3 separate regions of the Homo sapiens genome follow, and regions 2 and 3 are each linked to region 1. The links come from fine-mapping of genetic effects on gene expression. A gene starts in region 1. Each other region holds a variant in brackets. All regions are shown on one strand. Distances are from middle to middle. Region 1 holds the start of METTL27 (methyltransferase like 27). Region 2 has its middle 12 kb from the start of CLDN3. Region 3 has its middle 21 kb from the start of CLDN4.

Region 1 (2,756 bases):
TGGGGGATCTCCCTTATGGGGTGGTCTCAGAGTCTGCCAGGCTAAGCTGTGTGTGTTGGGGATCAAGCCTGGCTGGGGCTAGCGTGAGGGGACGCCCAGGCATGAGGTGCTTCCCATTGCTAAAGGGCCAGGACTGGAGAGTTAGCCCCCAGCCCACTGTACAGTAGACTCAGCCCTCCAGGGACCTTCTCTCCTGGCCAAGCGGCTCTCTCTGCTGAGTCCACATGACTTTTTTTTTTTTTTTTTTTGAGACAGAGTCTCCCTCTGTCACTCGGGCTGGAGTGCAGTGAAGAGATCTTGGCTCACTGCAACCTCTGTGTCCCGGATTCAGGCAATTCTCCTGCATCAGCCTCCAGGGTAGCTGGGATTACCAGGCGCCTGCCACCACGTGGGCCTGGCTAATTTTTGTATTTTTAGTAGAGTCAGGGTTGCACCATGCTGGCCAGGCTGGTCTCGAACTCCTGACCTCAGGTGATCCGCCCGCCTCGGCCTCCCAAAGGGCTTAGGATTACGGCTTGTGAGCCACCGCGCCCGGCCCCACAGTGACTTCTCAATAGCACCTCCTCCAGGCAGCCCCCCTCAGGAGGTCATGGCCCCTGATGGGGCTGCCAATCCAGAGCTGTGGGGCGGGTTCTGGAAGGGGCAGGACTGTAGGGTTCTTAGCCAGGCCTCACTTCGTCCTCACAGCCGCCCCCGGGTGCAAGGCTGATTCCCCACTTTACAGGTAGAAAAATGGAGGCTGGTCTAGTGGAGGCAAGGCCCCAAATGAGTTTACCTGGTCGTAGTCCGGAGCCCAGCGGTCATAGAAATGGAGCTTTTGGGCCAGGTCGGGGATGCCATGCGCGGCCCTGACCCGCGCCCGCACCTCGGGCAGGCTCCCACCCTCCTCCTGGGCCATGCTCCTGTGGGGACACCGTTGCCCTGTCTCGAGGTCCACCTCAATCGCCCATCCCCTCCTTTCCCCCTTCCCTCCTCCCCCTTCAGAGGAGGCTGCCAGGCCTCCTGCCAGCGCGACCCCTATCCCGGCCCCTATCCCAGATGGGGACACTGAGCGCAGAGAGGGCGGGCTTGGATATTTACACTCTGGGGCTGCAGGGCTGGGGGAAGGGCAAGGTGGGAGAAGGGGGTGCCCCGCGGCTGGAGGAAGGACCTATCTTCCTCTTTTCCGCCCTCCGACTGAGAGAGGGTCGGAGGTGGGCGACATCCGGAGCGAAACGGTCTCGAAGGAGGCCGGAGTCAGAACTCACCGCCAATCCAGCGCGCCTCGGGCGTGTGGGCAACAGGACTCGGGGCGGGGCCTGTGTTGCGACCCTGGCCACACCCTCACCGCCTGCCCGCAATGATTGGTTTTCCGCTGAGAGAAAATAGCCAGTCAAAGGAAGGCGCTGGCAGTCTGCCCGCCCCCCCCCCCCCCGCCAGCCAATGAGCTCAAGGCTTGTGGCCCTCCTCCAGCCTTGGTAGAGCAGGGACTGCGGAGATGTTTTCCTGCTGTGCGGGTTTAGGGGCTTCTCGGTGGTCTGGCCCCGGCCTCCCCCTCCACCGTCAGGTAGCAGCACCTCCACCATCCCCCTCCAACTGCCCTCCTGCCTCCTGAAGTCCTTTATGCTTCCTGAAAGCATGAGGTTTGTAGGCACTGGGGAGTCTCTGAATTCTTATGGGCAGGAGAGGGACCTAGGATTAGCTTTCATTTTTACTTTGTATTTATATTTACTTATTTTGTTTTATTTTTGTTTTGTTTTATGAGACAGGGTCTCACTCTGTCGCCCAGGCTGGAGTGCAGTGGCTTGACCATAGCTCACTGCAGCCTTGAACTCAAGCTCAAGCCAGCCTCCTGCCTCAGCCTTCTGAGTAGCTGAGTAGCTGGGACTACAGGTGCATGCCACCTTGCCCGGCTTTTTAAATTTTTATCTATTTATTTTTATCTTCGTAGTTTTTGTAGAGACAAAAAATGTTGTCCAGGCTGGTCTTAAACTCCTAGTCTCAAGCGATTCTCCCACCTCTGCCTCCTGGCAAATTTTATTTTAATAATTTTATTTTAAAAAACCGTACTGGCAAATTTTATTTTAATAAGTTAAATAGCCACATGTGGCTAGTGGCTACTGTATTGGACAGCAGAGAGAGTCTTGCGGCTGGAAGTGTGACCTGAAGATACGCAGCGTCAGCCTCCGTAACATCTTGGTTTCCTCTAGGAGATGCCCTAGGGAAGCTTGTGAGAAATGCAAAAATTAGGCCGGGGCGCAGTGGCTCACACCTGTAATCCCAGCACTTTGGGAGGCTGAGGTGGGCGGGTCACTTGAGGACAGGAGTTTGAGACCAGCCTGGCTAACAGGACAAAACCCCATCTCTACTAAAAATACAAAAATTAGCCGGGCGTGGTGGCGGGCATCTGTAATTCCAGCTACTCAGGAGGCTGAGGTGGGAGAATAGCTTGAACTTGGGAGGCACAGATTGCAGTGAGCAGAGACTGCGCCACTGCACTTCAGCCTGGGTGACAGAGCAAGACTCCATCTCAAATAAAAAAAAAAAGTAAAAATTCTCAGTTGACCTGGGACCTTCTGAATGAGAATTAGATTTCTGGGACTGGGGCCCAGAGTTTCTGTGTTTCTACAAACTCTGCAGGCGATTTCTAGGCAGCTGAAGGTTCAGAAGCGCTGGTCTAGAGGACCTGTGTTGGAATCAAGGGTTTGGGCAGGCAGAATTTGGCAGGCTGTTGCAGGTGTCCAGGCAGGAGGTGATGGTTGCATGACCTTGGGTAG
Region 2 (2,756 bases), 60 kb before region 1:
GGTAATACTAAATAAAATGAACTGGGAAATGTTCTCCTTTCTTCTGTGTTCTGGAAGAGACTGCATAGAAATGGTGTATTAGGCCTTTCTTGCATTGCTATAAAGATATACCTGAGACTGGGTAATTTATAAGAAAAGAGGTTTAATTGGTTCATGGTTCAGCAGGCTTTACAGGAAGCATGGTGCTGACATCTGCTCGACTTCTGGGGAGGCCTCAGGAAGCTTTCAATCATAGCAAAGTCAAAGAGGGAGCAATCACGTCACATGGCAAAAGGAGGAAAAAGAGAGAGAGTGCAGGGGTATGTCACATACTTTTTTTTTTTTTTTTGAGTTTTGCTCTTGTCGCCCAGGCTGGAGTGCAATGGCATGATGTTGGCTCACTGCAACCTCTGCCTCCTAGGTTCAAGCGATTCTCCTGCCTCACCTCCTAAGTAGCTGGGATTACAGGTGTGCACCACCACGCACAGCTAATTTTTGTATTATTAGTAGAGACAGGATTTCACCATGTTGCCCAAGCTGGTCTCAAACTCCTGATCTCAAGTGATCCACCCACCTCAGCCTCCCAAAGTGCTGGAATTACAGGTATGAGCCACTGTGCCCAGCTGCCACACACTTTTAAATGACCAGATCTGATGTGAACCCAGAGCAAGAACTCATTCATTACCAAAAGGATGGCCCAAGCCATTGATGAGGAATCCATCTCCATGATCCATACACCTCCCATCAGGCCCACACCTCCAACACTGGGGATTACATCTCAACATGAGATTTGAGTGGGGACAAGCATCCTAACTATATCAAATGGTATTAATTCTTCTTTAAACGTTTGGTAGCATTTTCCAAAGAAAATTAGGCCTGTTGATTCTTTTCTGAGTTTTAAAATTGCAAATTTAATTTCCTCAATAGATATAAGGCCACTCAAATTATCTATTTCATAATAGATGGGTTGTTGTAGTTTGTGTTTTTTGGGGGAACTGGGCTATTTTAACTAAGTTGTTGAATTTATGCGTTCCCTTATTCATAGAGTTGTTCATAGTGTCCTCTTATTATCCTTTACGTGTCTGTAGGATCTGTCGTAATAGCCTGTGTTTCATTTTTTTTTTTTTTGAGACGGAGTCTTGCTCTGTC[G/A]CCCAGGCTGGAGTGCAATGGTGTGATCTCGGCTCACTGCAACCTCCGCCTCCAGGTTCAAGCGATTCTCTTGCCTCAGCCTCCCGAGTAGCTGGGATTACAGGCGCCTGCCACTATGCCCAGCTAATTTTTGTATTTTTAGTAGAGACGGGGTTTCACCATGTTAGTTAGGCTTGTCCTGAACTCCTAACCTCAGATGATCTGCCCGCCTCAGCCTCCCAAAGTGCTGGGATTACAGGTGTGAGCCACCATGCCCAGGCCCATGTTTCATTTCTATTGATAAATTGTGTCTTCTTTTTTCTGTTGGTCTTGCTAGAAGTTAGTCAATTTTACTGATTTTTTCAGTTACTTTTTTGTTTCATTGATATTTTTCTATGCAAAAAAATTTCTGTTTTCAATTTCACTAGTTTTTGCTCTTATCTTTATATTTCCTTCCTTCTACTTGCTTTGTATTTATTTGGCTCTTGTTTTCTAGGTTCTTCTATTCTTTATTTAGATTTTTTATAAAGATGGAGTCTTGTCTTGCTCTGTCACCCAGGCTAGAGTACAAAGGTGCGATCATAGCTTATTACAGCCTTGGACTTCTGGGCTCAGGCAACTTCTTCTTCTTCTTTTTTTTTTTTTGAGACAGTTTTGATCTTGTTGCCCAGGCTGGAGTGCAGTGGTGTGATCTTGGCTCACTGCAACCTCCACCTCCTGGGATCAAGTGATTCTCCTGCCTCAGCCTCCTGAGTAGCTGGGATTACAGGCGTACGCCACCACGCCCAGCTAATTTTTTGTATTTTTAGTAGAGACGGGGGTTTCATCATGCTGGCGATGGATTTTAGGTGTGAGCCACTGAGCCCGGCCAAAGGCTCAGGCAACTTTTGCCTTGAACTTCTGCCTCAGCCTCCCAAGTGACTGGGACTACAGGCATGCATCACCACACCTGGCTTTTTTTCTAGGTTCTTGATGTGACAGATTAGATTATTGATTTGGGACTTTCCCTCTTTTCTGATGTATGCATCTAATGCTATAAATTTCCTTATCAGCATTGCTTTATGTGCGTGCCACCATTTGGATATGTTGTATTTTAATTTTCATTTACTTAAGTGTATTTTTTGAAAATACACAGGAGGAAACCTATGATTTCCTCTTGAGCTATGGATTATTTAGAAGTATGTGGTTTGGTTCACAAGAGTTTGCAGATCTTCCTGTTATTTTCTTTTCTTTTCTTTTTTTTTTTTTTGGGATGGAGTCTCGCTCTGTCGCCCAGGCTGGAGTGCAGTGGCTTGATCTCGGCTCACTGCAAGCTCCGCCTCCTGGGTTCACCTCATTCTCCTGCCTCAGCCTCTGGAGTAGCTGGGACTACAGGGGCCTGCCACCACGCCCGGCTAAGTTTTTGTATTTTGTTTAGTAGAAATGGGGTGACACCGTGTTAGCCAGGATGGTCTTGATCTCCTGACCTCGTGATCCGCCCACCTCGGCCTCCCAAAGTGCTGGGATTACAGGCGTGAGCCACCGCGCCCAGCCCTCTTTTTCTGTTATTGGTTTCTAGTTTGGTTCCAGTGTGTGACAGAATATACTCTATATGATTTCAATTCTTTTACATTTGTTGAAATGTGTTTTTTGGCCCAAGATGTGGTCTA
Region 3 (2,756 bases), 33 kb before region 1:
GCAGTGGCGCGATCTTGGCTCACTGCAAGCTCCGCCTCCCGGGTTCACGCCATTCTCCTGCCTCAGCCTCCTGAGTAGCTGGGACTACAGGAGCCCGCCATCACGCCCGGCTCAGTTTTTGTATTTTTAGTAGAGATGGGGTTTCACTGTGTTAGCCAGGATGGTCTCGATCTCCTGACCTTGTGATCCACCCGCCTCGGCCTCCCAAAATGCTGGAATTACAGCCGTGAGCCACCCGGCCTGTTTTTTAAAAAAGAAAAATACAGTCCAGCTGTGGGGGCTCACGCCTGTAATCCTAGCACTTTGGGAGGCCAAGGTGGGAGGATTGCTTGAGGTCAGGAGTTCAAACCAATCTGGCCAACATAGTGAGACCCTGTCTCCAAAAAAGAAAAAAACAAAAAAACCAAAAAACTACGTAACTCAATTTGTGTTTTTCTTCCCGTGCAAAAAACAAAAAAACAAAAAGCCACGTAACTCAATTTGTGTTTTTCTTCCTGTGCAGTGGGGTCACTGGCGTTCGCCCCTCCCCAGTTGCCATTTCCCTGTCTCTGTTGCCCCTAGTCTCCTTACCTTCTCTGTCCAGCTCCCTGAAGCCCCTAAGCAGCCTCTTTTTTTTGAGACAGAGTCTTGCTCTGTTGCCCCAGCTGGAGTGCAGTGGTGCCTTCTCGGCTCACTGCAACCTCCACCTCCCGGGTTCAAGCTATTCTCCTGACTTAGCCTTACAGGCACCTACCACCACTCCCAGCTAATTTTTGTATTTTTAGTAGAGACGGGGTTTTGCTGTGTTGGCCAGGCTGGTCTCGAACTCCTGACCTCAGGTGATTCACTCGCCTTGGCCTCCCAAAGTGCTAGGATTACAGGCGTGAGCCACCGTACCCGGCCCCCTAAGCAGCCTCTTAAACTGGCCATCTGAGAAGCAGAACTCTTGAGGTGAGGAGTTTGGTTTGGGGCTCAGAGGGCCGCGCGTGTGTGGCCTCTGTCTGTCCGGGGATGGGGTGGGCGTGTTTGGCTTTCGAGGTGGATTCGTGCTTGTGTGAGAGGGTGTGTGTTTCTCATTCCTGGTATCCTCAGTTCCGGGCGTGGCGTGTCCCTCCGTGTGAGTGACGGTGGGAAGGTGAGGTGAGAGTGGCCAGGGCGGGGTGGAACTGTTTTCTCTCGGCCCGTCCAGGTTGGCTGCTTTTGGGTAATTCCCAGGCTCTGAGATGTCACAGAGCCAGGACGGGAGGAGTGAGTCACCCCCACCATTCCGCCATTGCCCTGGAGAAGCTTCTTCCCTGTCCCCAGGGCCCGGTTTCACTGGGAGCCATAAAAAGGCCCTGCCCAAGCTTGGTTTCTTCCGTTTTCAGCCGGACCTGCTGAAACCAAGCCTGGGGGCTGCCTGGGAGCGTGCCAAGGGCACTGCCCAGATGGGGCCCAGCCCAGAGGGAAACCAGCCCAGCAGGGACCCAGCTCCAGCTAAGGCCAGAAACCAGAGCCCACCCTTGGGGGCTGTTCTGTTCCTGGTCTCATCTGGTTTATACATATATATATATACACATACATATATATATATATACACACACACATACACATACATATATATATATACACACATACACACATATATATATATATATATACACACACACATACATATATATATATATATATATATTTTTTTTTTGACACAGTGTCGAGCTCTGTCGCCCAGGTTGGGGTGCAGTGGCATAATCTTGGCTTAGTTCAACCTCTGCCTCCCAGGTTCAAGTGATTCTCCTGC[C/T]TCAGCCTCCTGAGTAGCTGGGACTACAGGCATGCACCACCATGCCCTGGCTAATTTTTGTATTTTTAACAGAGATGGGTTTTCACCATTTTGGCCAGGCTGGTCTCGAACTCCTGACCTCAAGTGATCCGCCCACCTTGGCCTCCCAAAGTTCTGGGATTACAGGCATTAGCCACCGCGCCTGGCCACATCTGGTTTATATCTTAAGCCCCTCTGCCCACCAGGAGCCCCTTCCCCTGCAGGACTATGCCCCAGGCCCCCTCCACTCCCAGACTCCCCTCTGTAAGCTCCCCTTTCTTCCCTGAGCCCCATTCCTCTCCAAGAGCCCCCTCCCCTATCTGAAGCTCCTCTTCTCCTGGAGACCCTTCCCCTCCCAGTTCCCCCGCACCCCCTCCCTCCACTGCCCCTCCCTCTTAAAGTCCCCTACCCTTCTGTCCTGTCACTTCCCTGCCCTCTCGCTCCCTGGGGTGGGAGGGCCTGGCTTGGCGAGGCGGCTAAGAGAGGGGAAGGGGCTCAGGGTGGGGGCAGGGCATGTCTGGGGTCTGCCAGCTTGTCTTGGCCTGGCTGGCTCTCTATTCCATTATGAACATGTGGCTGGGGTTTCTGCCATCCTCCCAGGCCCTGGTGGGGTGGTTGGGGCTGAGAGGGTGATGGGGAGGGGAGGAGGAAGGGGCCGCAATGCCAATCACATCACCCCAGGGGCTCAGAACAGCTCCCGCCTCTCCTCCTCCTCCCCTTCTTTCTCGCCCCCACCCCCCTCCCCACCTTCCAGAGCCCATTAGCCCAGGGCTGCAGTGACACCTGCCTCCACTGGGGATCCTCCCCTACTCCTGGGGCCATAGCTGCTCCCCCAAGGGTGGGTTACCCTCTTGCCTTTTGACCTTCCCAGGGACCTGGCAGTCCTGCCCCTGGGTGGCCACCTCTTCAGCCTCTCCCAGAGCCTTGGCCACACTTGCTGTGCCGTCCGCAAACACCCAAGGGGGCACCGTGCCCAGTC

The links. PIP is the estimated chance that this variant, and not a neighbour inherited with it, causes the effect.
Region 2: its variant is the best candidate, but not a certain one, in a credible set for the expression of METTL27 in testis (GTEx, PIP 0.82).
Region 3: its variant is the best candidate, but not a certain one, in a credible set for the expression of METTL27 in subcutaneous fat (GTEx, PIP 0.66).

The regions. Positions count from the first base shown.
Region 1 is chr7:73,841,243-73,843,998 of GRCh38, forward strand. METTL27 (methyltransferase like 27) reads right to left here and starts at 1,274. Exons shown (of 6, transcript NM_152559.3): 1 at 1,248-1,274; 2 at 776-902. The coding sequence starts at 898. RefSeq lists an enhancer at 913-1,212 and a silencer at 1,333-1,432.
Region 2 is chr7:73,781,370-73,784,125 of GRCh38, forward strand. No RefSeq gene overlaps it. Among named protein-coding and RNA genes, the nearest start is that of CLDN3, 12 kb to the left of the region's middle. The variant G/A (reference allele first, on the strand shown) is at 1,129.
Region 3 is chr7:73,808,522-73,811,277 of GRCh38, forward strand. No RefSeq gene overlaps it. Among named protein-coding and RNA genes, the nearest start is that of CLDN4, 21 kb to the right of the region's middle. The variant C/T (reference allele first, on the strand shown) is at 1,760.